Linked DNA regions of Homo sapiens: region 1 is linked to region 2. Evidence: fine-mapped expression QTL. A gene starts in region 2. The other region holds a variant in brackets. All regions are shown on one strand. Distances are from middle to middle. Region 1 has its middle 11 kb from the start of ICAM2. Region 2 holds the start of PRR29 (proline rich 29).

What was found. PIP is the estimated chance that this variant, and not a neighbour inherited with it, causes the effect.
Region 1: its variant is the best candidate, but not a certain one, in a credible set for the expression of PRR29 in tibial artery (GTEx, PIP 0.76).

Annotation. Positions count from the first base shown.
Region 1 is chr17:64,029,256-64,034,631 of GRCh38, forward strand. No RefSeq gene overlaps it. Among named protein-coding and RNA genes, the nearest start is that of ICAM2, 11 kb to the left of the region's middle. The variant T/C (reference allele first, on the strand shown) is at 2,508.
Region 2 is chr17:63,995,206-64,000,581 of GRCh38, forward strand. It overlaps PRR29 (proline rich 29), which reads left to right and starts at 3,146. Exons shown (of 6, transcript NM_001164257.2): 1 at 3,146-3,219; 2 at 3,502-3,577; 3 at 3,763-3,869. The coding sequence starts at 3,160. It overlaps PRR29-AS1 (PRR29 antisense RNA 1), which reads right to left and starts at 4,694. Exons shown (of 3, transcript NR_126169.1): 1 at 3,120-4,694; 2 at 2,560-2,717; 3 at 866-2,058. RefSeq lists a silencer at 3,029-3,078 and an enhancer at 3,332-4,309.

The sequences.
Region 1 (5,376 bases), 34 kb after region 2:
CACATCTTAAATTTTTGGGGGTCTATTTGATCAGTGAGAAAAATGGTTAAAATATCCATTGTTGACAATTTTTCCTTGTAGTTCAGTTTTTGCCTTATATATTTTGAAGCTATGTTGTTAGGTGTCTAAGGATTCGTGCCTTATATGTTCTATTCAGTTATTTTTTTTGATAAAAATGAAATATCTTTTTCTGTCCCATTCAATCCTTTTCTTTTTGAATTCTGTCTATAGCCAGCCATAGCACTCTGAACATGCCTGATCTTGTCTGAATTCTATAGAATCTGATTGGTATTGCTAAACCAGCATTTTGTTAATATTTGTTTGCTACATCTTTTTCTATGTATTTATTTAAAAAAAAAAAAAATTTTGAGACAGGGTCTCACTCTGTTGCCCAGGCTGGAGTGCAGTGGCACCATCATGGCTCACAGCAGCCTAGGCCTCCCCAGGCTCACGTAACCTCAACCTCAACCTCCCAAGCAGCTGGGACTACAGGTGCACACCACCACACCAGCTAATTTTTGTATTTTTTTGTAGAGACAAGGTCTCCCTGTGTTGCCCAGGCTGGTCTTGAACTCCTGGGCTCAAGCAAATCCACCCGCCTTGGCCTCCCAAAGTGCTGGGATTACAGGTGTGAACCATCGTGTCCGGCCCATGCTGTCTTAATTATAATATTATAGCATTTGGAAGGATAATGCCCTAATATTATTCTTTTTCAGAGCTCTCCTAGTCATTGGTTACTGTTCTTTATGCAATTCTACAAGAAACCTATTCAGATTTTTATTGAGGTCACATATGACATCTTTACAGTGTTGAACAGTGTTGAGCTTTTCCGTCTCTCTTTCTATGGTTTGTGTGTGTGTGTGTGTGTGTGTGTGTGTTTTCTTTTTTCTTTTTTTTTTTTTTGAGACAGGGTCTCACTCTGTCACCCAGGCTGGAGTGCAGTGGCCCGATCACGGCTTACTGCAGCCTCCACCTCTTGGCTTAAGCAATCCTCCCACCTCGGCCTCCAGAGTAGCTGGGACTACAGGCACACACCACCATGCCCAGCTAATTTTTGTATTTTTTTTTTTTGTAGAGATGGGAGTCTCACCATGTTGCCTAGGCTGATCTTGAACTCCTGGGCTCAAGCAATCCACCCACCTTGGCCTCCCAAAGTGCTGGGATTACAGGTGTGAGCCACTGCGCCCAGGTCCTATGTCTTTATTTTCAGCTTTCCCGTGTGCATTGATTGGGAATTGGTTTCACTTCATGTAGTAGAAACAAACTAATGCAGCTCCGTCAGTAAGATTTTTTTCTCACACAAGAAGTCTGAAGGCTGTGGTCCAGAAGAGGTGAACATCAAAGACGCATCAACCAACTGGGCTTCTTCTACCATTCTACCATTTGCTCCTCTGTATTTTTTTCTTTTCTTTTTTTTTTTTTTTTTTTTTTTTGAGACGGGGTCTTGCTCTGTTGTCAGGCTGGAGTGCAGTGGTGCGATCTCAGCTCATTGCAACCTCTGCCTCCTGGGTTCAAGAGATTCCCCTGCCTCAGCCTCCTGAGTAGCTGGGACTACAGGCATGCACCACCACGCCCGGCTAATTTTTTGTATTTTAGTAGAGATGGGGTTTCACCACGTTGTCCAGGATGGCCTTGATCTCCTGACCTCGTGATCTGACCGCCTTGGCCTCCCAAAATGCTGGGATTACAGGCATGAGCCACCGCGCCCAGCCTTTTTTTTTTTTTAGGCGGAGTCTCGCTCTGTTGCCCAGGCTGGAGTGCAGTGGAGCAATCTCAGCTCACTGCAACCTCCACCTCCTGGGCTCAAGCAATTCTCCTGCCTCAGCCTCCTGAGTAGCTGGGACTACAGGCACCTGCCACCATGCCCAGCTAACTTTTTGTATTTTTAGTAGAGATGGGGTTTCACCGTGTTAGCCAGGATGGCCTTGATCTCCTGACCTTGTGATCTGCCTGCCTCGGCCTCTGAAAGTGCTGGGATTACAGGTATGAGCCACAGTGCCCAGCCAATGCTCCTCTGTATTTAGGGCATAACTTAGACCTCCTGGTTGAGAGAGAGCTACTGTACCTCCATGTCGGTGACAGCATTCCAGACAGGAAAAGGTAACAAGGGTAAAGGACACAGAGACATGCAGATGGAACAGTCCTTTTTAGCAGAAAAATGAGAGCTTGCTATGAAGCTGCACCCAGCAGAATTCCACTTACATCTTAGTGCCTGGAACTGGGTTCCATGGACACCACCAGCTGCAAGAGAGTCTGGGGAGTTCAGCCTTTTAAAATGAGCACGTTGCTTCCCTAAAAAAAATAGGGTCTCCATTAGTAAGAGGGGAGGATGAATCTTGGGTGAATAACTGGCACTGTCTGCTTCACCACAGTATTTTGCTTTTGCTATTTCTTGTAAACAGCATATAAATGAGTTCTTTTTAAAAACCCAATATGAATTTATAAACCTTCAATAATAAAATAGTATGAGACCAGTGCGTGAATAGACAGGGATAATTAGAACAGAA[T/C]ATAAATTTCAGGAATAGGCCTAAATACACATCATAGTTTAATAATGTGATAGGGGTGACATCTCAAAATAAATGGGGGAAGTCATGGACTATTCAGTAAATTATGTAGAAAAAAATAAGGCTAGACCTATACTTCACACCATATACCAGGATAGATTCTAAAAGGTCCAAAAGCCAAAATGTAAAAAAAAAAAAAAAAAGAAAGAAAAGAAAAGAAACCTTAGAAATCTGTAAGAAAACCTGGAATAACTGTTTTATAACATAATCCATATTTCAAAGTGAGTGTGATACACCGCAAATGACCACAAATTCTTTGAAGCTCTTTTCCATCAAGAGATGGAGTCTATTTCTCTACTCCTTGAATCTGGCCTGGGCTTGTGACTTGTGTAGATCAACAAAGTCATCAGAAATGCCACTGACAAGTTCCAGAGCCTAGGCCTCCAAAGGCTCTGAGCCTTTGGCTGTGCTCTCTTGGAATGCTGTGGTCTGTGAAGAAGCCCAGGCAAGCCCACGGAAGGATGAGTGACCGCGTGGAGCAGAGACAAGTCACGACTCAGATAGATGAGCAAGGCCATCCTAGACCATCCACCTCCTGCTGAGCTGGCCCTGACTGAAAGAGCCACCCAACCACCTACAGAGTTGTAGGCAAACAAATGATTGCTATTTCAAGCTGTTTTGTTTGTTTGTTTGTTTGTTTGTTTTACTACATATTGGAGTAATTTATCACTTTGCAACAAAAGATAACTGTAACGTCACTTCTAAAAATTTATCCTGCAGATAGAATTGCAACATGTGCAAAATGACAGACATTAGGTCCAGACCATTCATTGCCCCATTGTCTGTAAAATCTTTTTGTGGGGCAGAAACGGGGATGACAGGGTCTCACTCTGTCACCCAGGCTGGAGTGCAGTGGCATGATCATGGCTCACCACAGCCTTGACCTCCCAAGCTCAGGTGATCCTCCCACCTCAGCCTCTAGAGTAGTTGGGACTATAGGCACCTGCCACCATGCTTGGCTAATTTTTTTTATTTTTTGTAAAGACAAGGTTTTGCCATGTTGCCCTGACTGGTCTCAAACTCCTAGGCTCAAGCGATTCACCTGCCTCAGCCTCCCAAAGTACTAGGATTACAGGCATGAACCACTGGACCTAGTATTGACCCATCGTTTGTAATATCTAAAGACTGAAAACAACCTAAACCTCTATCACTAAGGGATGGGTGAGTAAGTTATTATATATTCATACAAAGGGATACTAGACGATGTGAAAAAATATTAGCACCTATATGCTGATATGGAAGGATCTTCAAGAATATTGCTAAAGTATATAATAAAAAGATATATATGGCCAGGTGTGGTGGCACATGCCTGTAATCCCAGCACTTTGGGAGGCCAAGGTGGGAAGATCATGAGGTCAGGGGTTCGAGACCAACCTGACCAACATGGTGAAATCCCGTCTCTACTAAAACTACAAAAAATTAGCCGGGCATGGTGGCATGTGCCTGTAATCCAAGCTACTTAGGAGGCTGAGGCAGGAGAATCACTTGAACCCAGGAGGTGGAGGTTGCAGTGAGCTGAGATCGAGCCACTGCACTCCAGCCTGGGCAACAGACCGAGACTCCGTCTCCAAAAAAAAAAAAAAAAAAGTATATACAAGAATGTTCATAATCACCTTATTCATAATAGCTAAAACTGATAATTCAAATGTCCACCAACAGGTAAAGTATGGCGTATTCATACAATGAAATGCTACACAACAAAGAACAAATAACTAATATACCCAACAACAGGGATGATCTGAAACAATATTGAGTCAAAGAAGTCAGACACAAAGAGAACATATTGCATGCTTCCATTTCTATGAAGAGTAAGAGGAGATGGATCTAATCTATGGTGATGGAAGCCAGAGGGGTGGTTACCCCCTGGGGAATGGAGAGGTGTGTTTGGACTGAAAGGGGCAAAAGAGGACCTTCTGGGGAGGTGGAAATGCTCCATGTCTAGATCTGGGAGGTGGTTATACTGGTTTTTATAATGTATGTAAAAATCACCAAGTTGCACATTTAAGATCTATGCATTTTACTATATGTAAATTATATCTTAATTTTTCTTTCATTTTTTTTTTTGGAGACAGAGTCTGGCTTTGTTGCCCAGGCTGGAGTATAGTGGTGCAATCTCAATTTACCTAGGCTCAAGTGATCCTCCCGCCTCAGCCTTCTGAGTAGCTGGGACTACAGGTGTGTGTACCATGCCTGGCTAATTTCTGTTTTTTTTGTTTTTGTTTTTGTTTTTGGTAGAGGTGGGTTTTTTTCATGTTGTCCAGACTGGTCTTGAACTCCTGGGCTCAAGTTATCCTCCCGGCCCAGCCTCCTAATCTTTCATTTTTTTTTTTAAGAGACAGGGTTTCACTATGTTGCCCAGGCTGGCCTTGAACTTCTGGGCTCAAGTGAACCTCCTACCTCATCCTCTCAAGTACCTGGGACTACAGGTGTGTGCCACTGTACTCAGCTTTATAGCTTAACTTTTAAAAAGAAATATTGCTAAAGAGAAGAAAAAAAAGCAAGATTCAGACTAGTGTGCATAGTATGTGCATAAAAAAGTGGGAGAAAGAATATGAAGTCATGTTTGCTTAAACAACGACTGTAAGGATACCCTAGAATCCAAAGGAGACAGTCTACTTCGGTGGTGGATTTACCAGAAGGGGCCAGGGAGGGGAGAGGGAGGCATTTCACCTTTTATCGTTTTGGACTTCTTTTTTTTTTTTAATTTTATTATTATTATACTTTAAGTTTTAGGGTACATGTGCACAATGTACAGGTTAGTTACATATGTATACATGTGCCATGTTGGTGTGCTGCACCCATTAACTCATCA
Region 2 (5,376 bases):
AGTCAGATAGTTTTGATCTCAGCCTTGTTTTTCAAAACACAAGCGGTTAACATGCCCTTTTACCTCTGAGGGATTGGAATGATCACCTCCTCCTGACTGTTTTCTACGGCCACCTCTAGCCCACTGCAGGCTTCCTTAGAGGGACAAGTGTGGCAGCCTCTTTGCTGGGCCCCCTGCCTCCAGCCTTGCTTCAGTTGAATCTATTGACCATTGTACACCCAAACTCATTTTCTTCAATGTCTATTTCAGTATTTCACATCTCTGAATGCAGATGTATCATAGAGCTACTTAAGTCCCTTTTCCAGGAGTTTTCAGTAGCCTGGAGGCAGATGTGGAGCGAGTAGGAGGCTGATGTCTTCGTTGGGATCCCCCAAAAGCAGACCCTGACACAGGCTTGGGGAGCAGTCGTTTCTTTGGAAGGAGATCCAAATGAGCACTACGAGAGAGTGGAGAAGGGACAGGGAGAGGAGAAAAGGCAGTAAAGTGTGTGTTTCTGAGCAGGTCACTGTGGGCCACCTGGGCACAAGCCCACAGGCATCACTGAGAGGCTCTGTGGGAGACACCTCAGAGTTGTCGCACTGAGACCAGGAGGCTGCGAGTTTAGCTATCAACTCCCATCCATTATTGCTTGTGGGCTGCTCCTGTGCCACCTTCTGGCCTGTCTTACCTGTGGCCAGGTGTCCTCAGGTGGAGGGGCTGTAGGTGAGGGCAGGAACCCTCTGCAGAAGACTCTAGGGGAGGCTGCGGGTCGGCCAACTCTGACAGCTGCTCCACAGTTGGATCTGTGTGTGTGTGTGTATGTGTATTCACACACACACACATGTACATACACACATGTATATGCATATGAATTTTTTTTTTTTTTAGATGGAGTCTCTGTTGCCCAGGCTGAAGTGCAGTGGCATGATCTCGGCTCACTGCAACCTCCACCTCCCAGGTTCAAGCGATTCTCCTGCCTCAGCCTCCTGAGTGTCTGGGATTGCAGGCACCCGCCACCACTCCCGGCTAATTTTTGTATTTTTAGTAGAGACAGGGTTTCACCATGTTGGCCAGGCTGGTCCCGAACTCCTGACCTCAAGTGATCTGCCTGCCTTGGCCTCCCAAACTGCTGGGATTACAGGCGTGAGCCACCGTGCCTGGACTTATGCATATGATTTTTAAAACAAAAATAAGATCTTACTATGCTTACTGATATTTTTGACTCAACTGTCTTGGACAACTTTTCACATCAACAGAGATATTCTATTCCCACATTATCCATGGTTGAATAGTATTCTATTGGGAGGATGCATCCCCATCAGACATTTGTTTGTTCGTTTGTTTTAGAAACTGGGTCTCACCCTGTTTCCCAGGCTGGAGTGCAGTGACGTGATCGTAGCTCACAGCATCCTTGAATCCCTGGGCTTGAGCGATCCTCCTGCCTCAGCCTCCTGAGTAGCTGGCACTATAGGCACAAGCCACCGCACCTGACCCCCTATCAGACATTTGTTACTTCTAAATGTGGTTGACATAAACAAAGGTGGACAAGAACAATCTTCCTGAAACATGGCTGGCCACAGCACTTGGTATCTCCCTTTTGCTTGAAACCCACTGATAGCTCTCCATTACCCACAGGGCCAAGCCTAAATTCCAAACCTTGGCATTCCAAACCTTGGCCTGTCCCTGGACCTCTGCTCTCTGCCCAGCTCCTCTTCTACAGTCAGACAGTTTGACCCACCGGGTCATCTCAGGTCCTGTCCATTCATACACCTGGGTCTTGGCTTGGGCTCTGTCCCCAGCCTGATAGCGCCCGTCTTCCCCTGCTGCTTGGCCCCATCAAGGACTGACTTCCTTGGAACTCCATCCCTCAGCGGTCAAGTCCTCTCTTTTTCATTATCCCCGGGGCGTAGTCTTATCTTTCTGCTCTCTTTCCATGGATACATTTTCACTTCCCAACAATGCTGGGACAAGTGACCATACTGCTTATGCCTCCAGGGTTCAGATGGCACATTGCACACGCAGACACTTCCTTGGTCAAGGTTTGTTGATGATGAGCAAAATGGCTTGTTCTCTTTCTACCTGGAATGAGAATGGAGATGGAGAGAGGCATCTCTGTGTTCTACTCACTGGGGGGCTGTGACCCCAGTGCCTGGATCTCAGCTTGTTAATGGCTGTTGAAGCCATAAGACCCATGGGGACAGTAAAGTAATGCCCACAAGCCTGCTCCCCTAGAGACAGGTACTACGGAGCAAAGGAGGAGGTGGGAATGGTCTTTCTGGTTCTTACTCCAGGACTGGCAGGAAGGGGAGCTGACATGGAGAGTGGGGGAAGGGCTACTCGGGGTGCTAAGCCCAGCTTCCTGTCTGGATTTTCCTTGACTGCTGCCGGGGGCCTATCTTAGGATGGTCACAGCTGCAGAAATAGATCTCCCCCTTCACCTGTTCTTAAGCAAGGAAGACCTTGCTAACTTCCTGTCAAAAGAACGCGTGCTTTGGTAACTTTTCCAGTACGGGAGACAGTACTGGGGACGCGGGTGCTGAAGTCACCACGATTTTCCTCGTCTGAGGAGCAGTGGCTCACCTTGGCCAGGAAACAGGGCAAATAGCCGCAAGGAGAGAGGCGAGAAGCCGGCCACGTGTTTCCAGCCAGAGTCCTCAGCCTCTTCCGTGAATTCGGGCGGTGTTTCCTTCCTTGGTCTGCTCCAGAAACCACTCTTTCCTGGCAGGAAGCCCCTCTCTCTGTCAGAGTGACAGGGAACAGACCCTTTGTCCTCCTCACTCGTCTGCCCTAGCCCCCAGCCTGCTCCTGCAAAAGTCTCTGTTTCTCCTGAACTTTTCAGCTGAGTCAATCGGGCTCTGGGACCCCGAAACCAAGCCTCCCCAGTCACTCGCTTATTCACTCAACAAACACACCCCCCTTCCCCGCACTAACCCAGGCCCAGTTCTGGGAACCAGCAAGGGGAGGGGAGGGGAGCCCCGAGCAGCGCGGCGGGAGGTGGACATGCCGGGGAGGAGACTGGCCTCCTGGTGGCGGGGGAGGGCTCCTGGGGACCCCAAGTCCGCGGAGGAGGAGACAGGAGGGAGCAGGGAGATGGAAGACCCAGGAGCACGGGCGGGCTCCGCGCATGCGTGGGAAGAGACCTTGGCGTCCTCGGCGTCGCCAAGGCAACCGGCGCCAGCCATGGCCTCTGGGGCGGGCGGAAGCTGGGGTCGCTCCCCACCGCAGAGCGCAGTCCCGACGGTGAGGGCTGAGCCCGGGAGCAGATCCTGCCTTAGCTTGGGAGACGGCAGAGTGGGGAGCTGTCCCTGGAGGGGCCAGATCCTGGAGGGGTGGGGGACGAGGAGAGACAGCCCCAAACCGAGAGGAAGAGGCGTGGCAGGGAGCAGGGAGGCCGCGGGGCGGGGAGGAGAGAACCTGGCCCCTGCGGGGTTAGGGAGGCCACTGGCCGGGGGGGTTGGGGCTCGCGACGTGTCCCCATCCATTCCCCCCACCCCACCTGGCTGACTCCGCGCACACCCCCAGCCCTGGGTCACCTTCCTGCAGCCCCTCTCGTGGGCCGTCCCACCTGCGCCCCCGCAGCCAGGCCGCGTGAAGGAAGGTGAGACTCCCGGGTCCCCCCACCCCACCCCCACCATCACCACCACTCACCCTCTTCTGCCTCGCACATCCTCTGGGAGTCCCCGCAGCACAACCCGCCAACCCATTCTTCACCCCCGGGACAGGGGTGTCAGGGGGAGGGGGACTCGGAGGCCCGGCGTGGGCTTGCTGAACCCCGCTTCCTAGACCTGCTGGAACTGATGATGCTGCAGAACGCGCAGATGCACCAGCTGCTGCTGAGTCGCCTGGTGGCTGGAGCGCTGCAGCCCCGGCCTGCCTCGCCCTGCCCTCAGGTGCGTGTGGGTGGGCCGCCGGGGTCGCTCACCTGTGGGTCCAGGGATGCGGATCCACCTGGGGTTCCTGTTCAGGGGGGAAAAGAACTGGGAGACAGAGGAGCAGGAAGCCAGCCCGTCTCTCTGGCTGGGGCTGTTTGGCATCTGTCATGTTTCAGCCTCCATGAAAGGTTGGGGCGGGGAAGAGACCCCCCAAAGTCCAGACCACCGAGGTCTTGTTTTCAAGGAGGTTTCCCTGTAGTGCCTCCCCCACTGGACTTAAGGCTCCAGGAAGGTAGGCACCCTGGTAACCCTGCCCCATGCATCATGAGCGTCTGGCCTGGTGCCTGACACCGTGTAGGGGCTCAGCTGATATTTGTTGAACGAGTGAATGAATAAATGAATGGTTAGGGATACAAAGCCAGGTTGGCTGTGATGGCACATGGAGAGGTACAAAGCACAAGTGCACATAGGGTTGGGGGATGGGGACAGGCTCCTTGGAGGAGCAGAGGATCTTAGAACCAGCCCTTGAAAGCCAGGTAGGATTTTGACCCTTGGAGGAGGCGAAGGGTGTGTCCCCCATCCAGGCTGGCAGGGGCAGAGTCAGGAGACAGAATGGGGGAAACCGTGTGCGGCAGTGTGTGTGTGCAAGAGTGTGTGTGTGTATGTGTGTGCAAGTGGGTGTCTGTGTGCATGCGTGTGTGTGTGCAAGGCTGTGTACATGCATATGTGTGTGCAAGTGTGTGTTCACGTGCGTGTGCAAGGGTGTGCGTGCACGTGTGTGCGAGCGGGTTGTGAAGGCAAGTGTGTGCGTGCAAGCAAGTGTGTGCGTGCAAGCAAGTGTGTGCAAGTGGGGGTGTGTGCAAGCGTGTGTGTGCATGCATGTGCATATAGCTCTAAGGCTGAGCCTTACTCAGCCAATAGTGGGCATCCTGAGGTCAGGAGAAGCAGGGACTGGGTGGAGAGAGAATGTTGTTCAGCTCGGAGGAGGCGGAGAGGGGTTCAAGGAATCCAGACAGAAGGAGACCCTGAGGAGCTACTGCCACCCCTCACCCCTGGGTCCTCAGTGATGACACATAGGTGGGTCCAGGGGCCGGGGGTGAGGCCGGGGACAGCTCAGTGGACTCCTGGCCCCAGCTCTGGGGGTCACACCTGGAATCAACTGGGTGGCCAAGTTGCTCAACGTCCTTGAGCTACAGGAGTAAATGTCTCCACAATTTGTTGTCCGCATGTAGTAAACGCTCAATAAACACAACCCATTCTTTTTTTCTTTTCTTTTCTTTTTCTTTTTTTTGAGACGGAGTCTCTCTCTGTCACCTAGGCTGGAGTATAGTGATGCAATCTCGGCACACTGCAACTTCCACCTCCTGGGTTCAAACAACTCTCCTGCCCCAGCCTCCCGAGTAGCTGGGACCACAGGCGCCTGCCACCACACCCGGCTACTTTTTTGTGTTTTTAGTAGAGACGGGGTTTCACTATGTTAGCCAGGATGGTCTCGATCTCCTGACCTTGTGATCCGTCCGCCTCA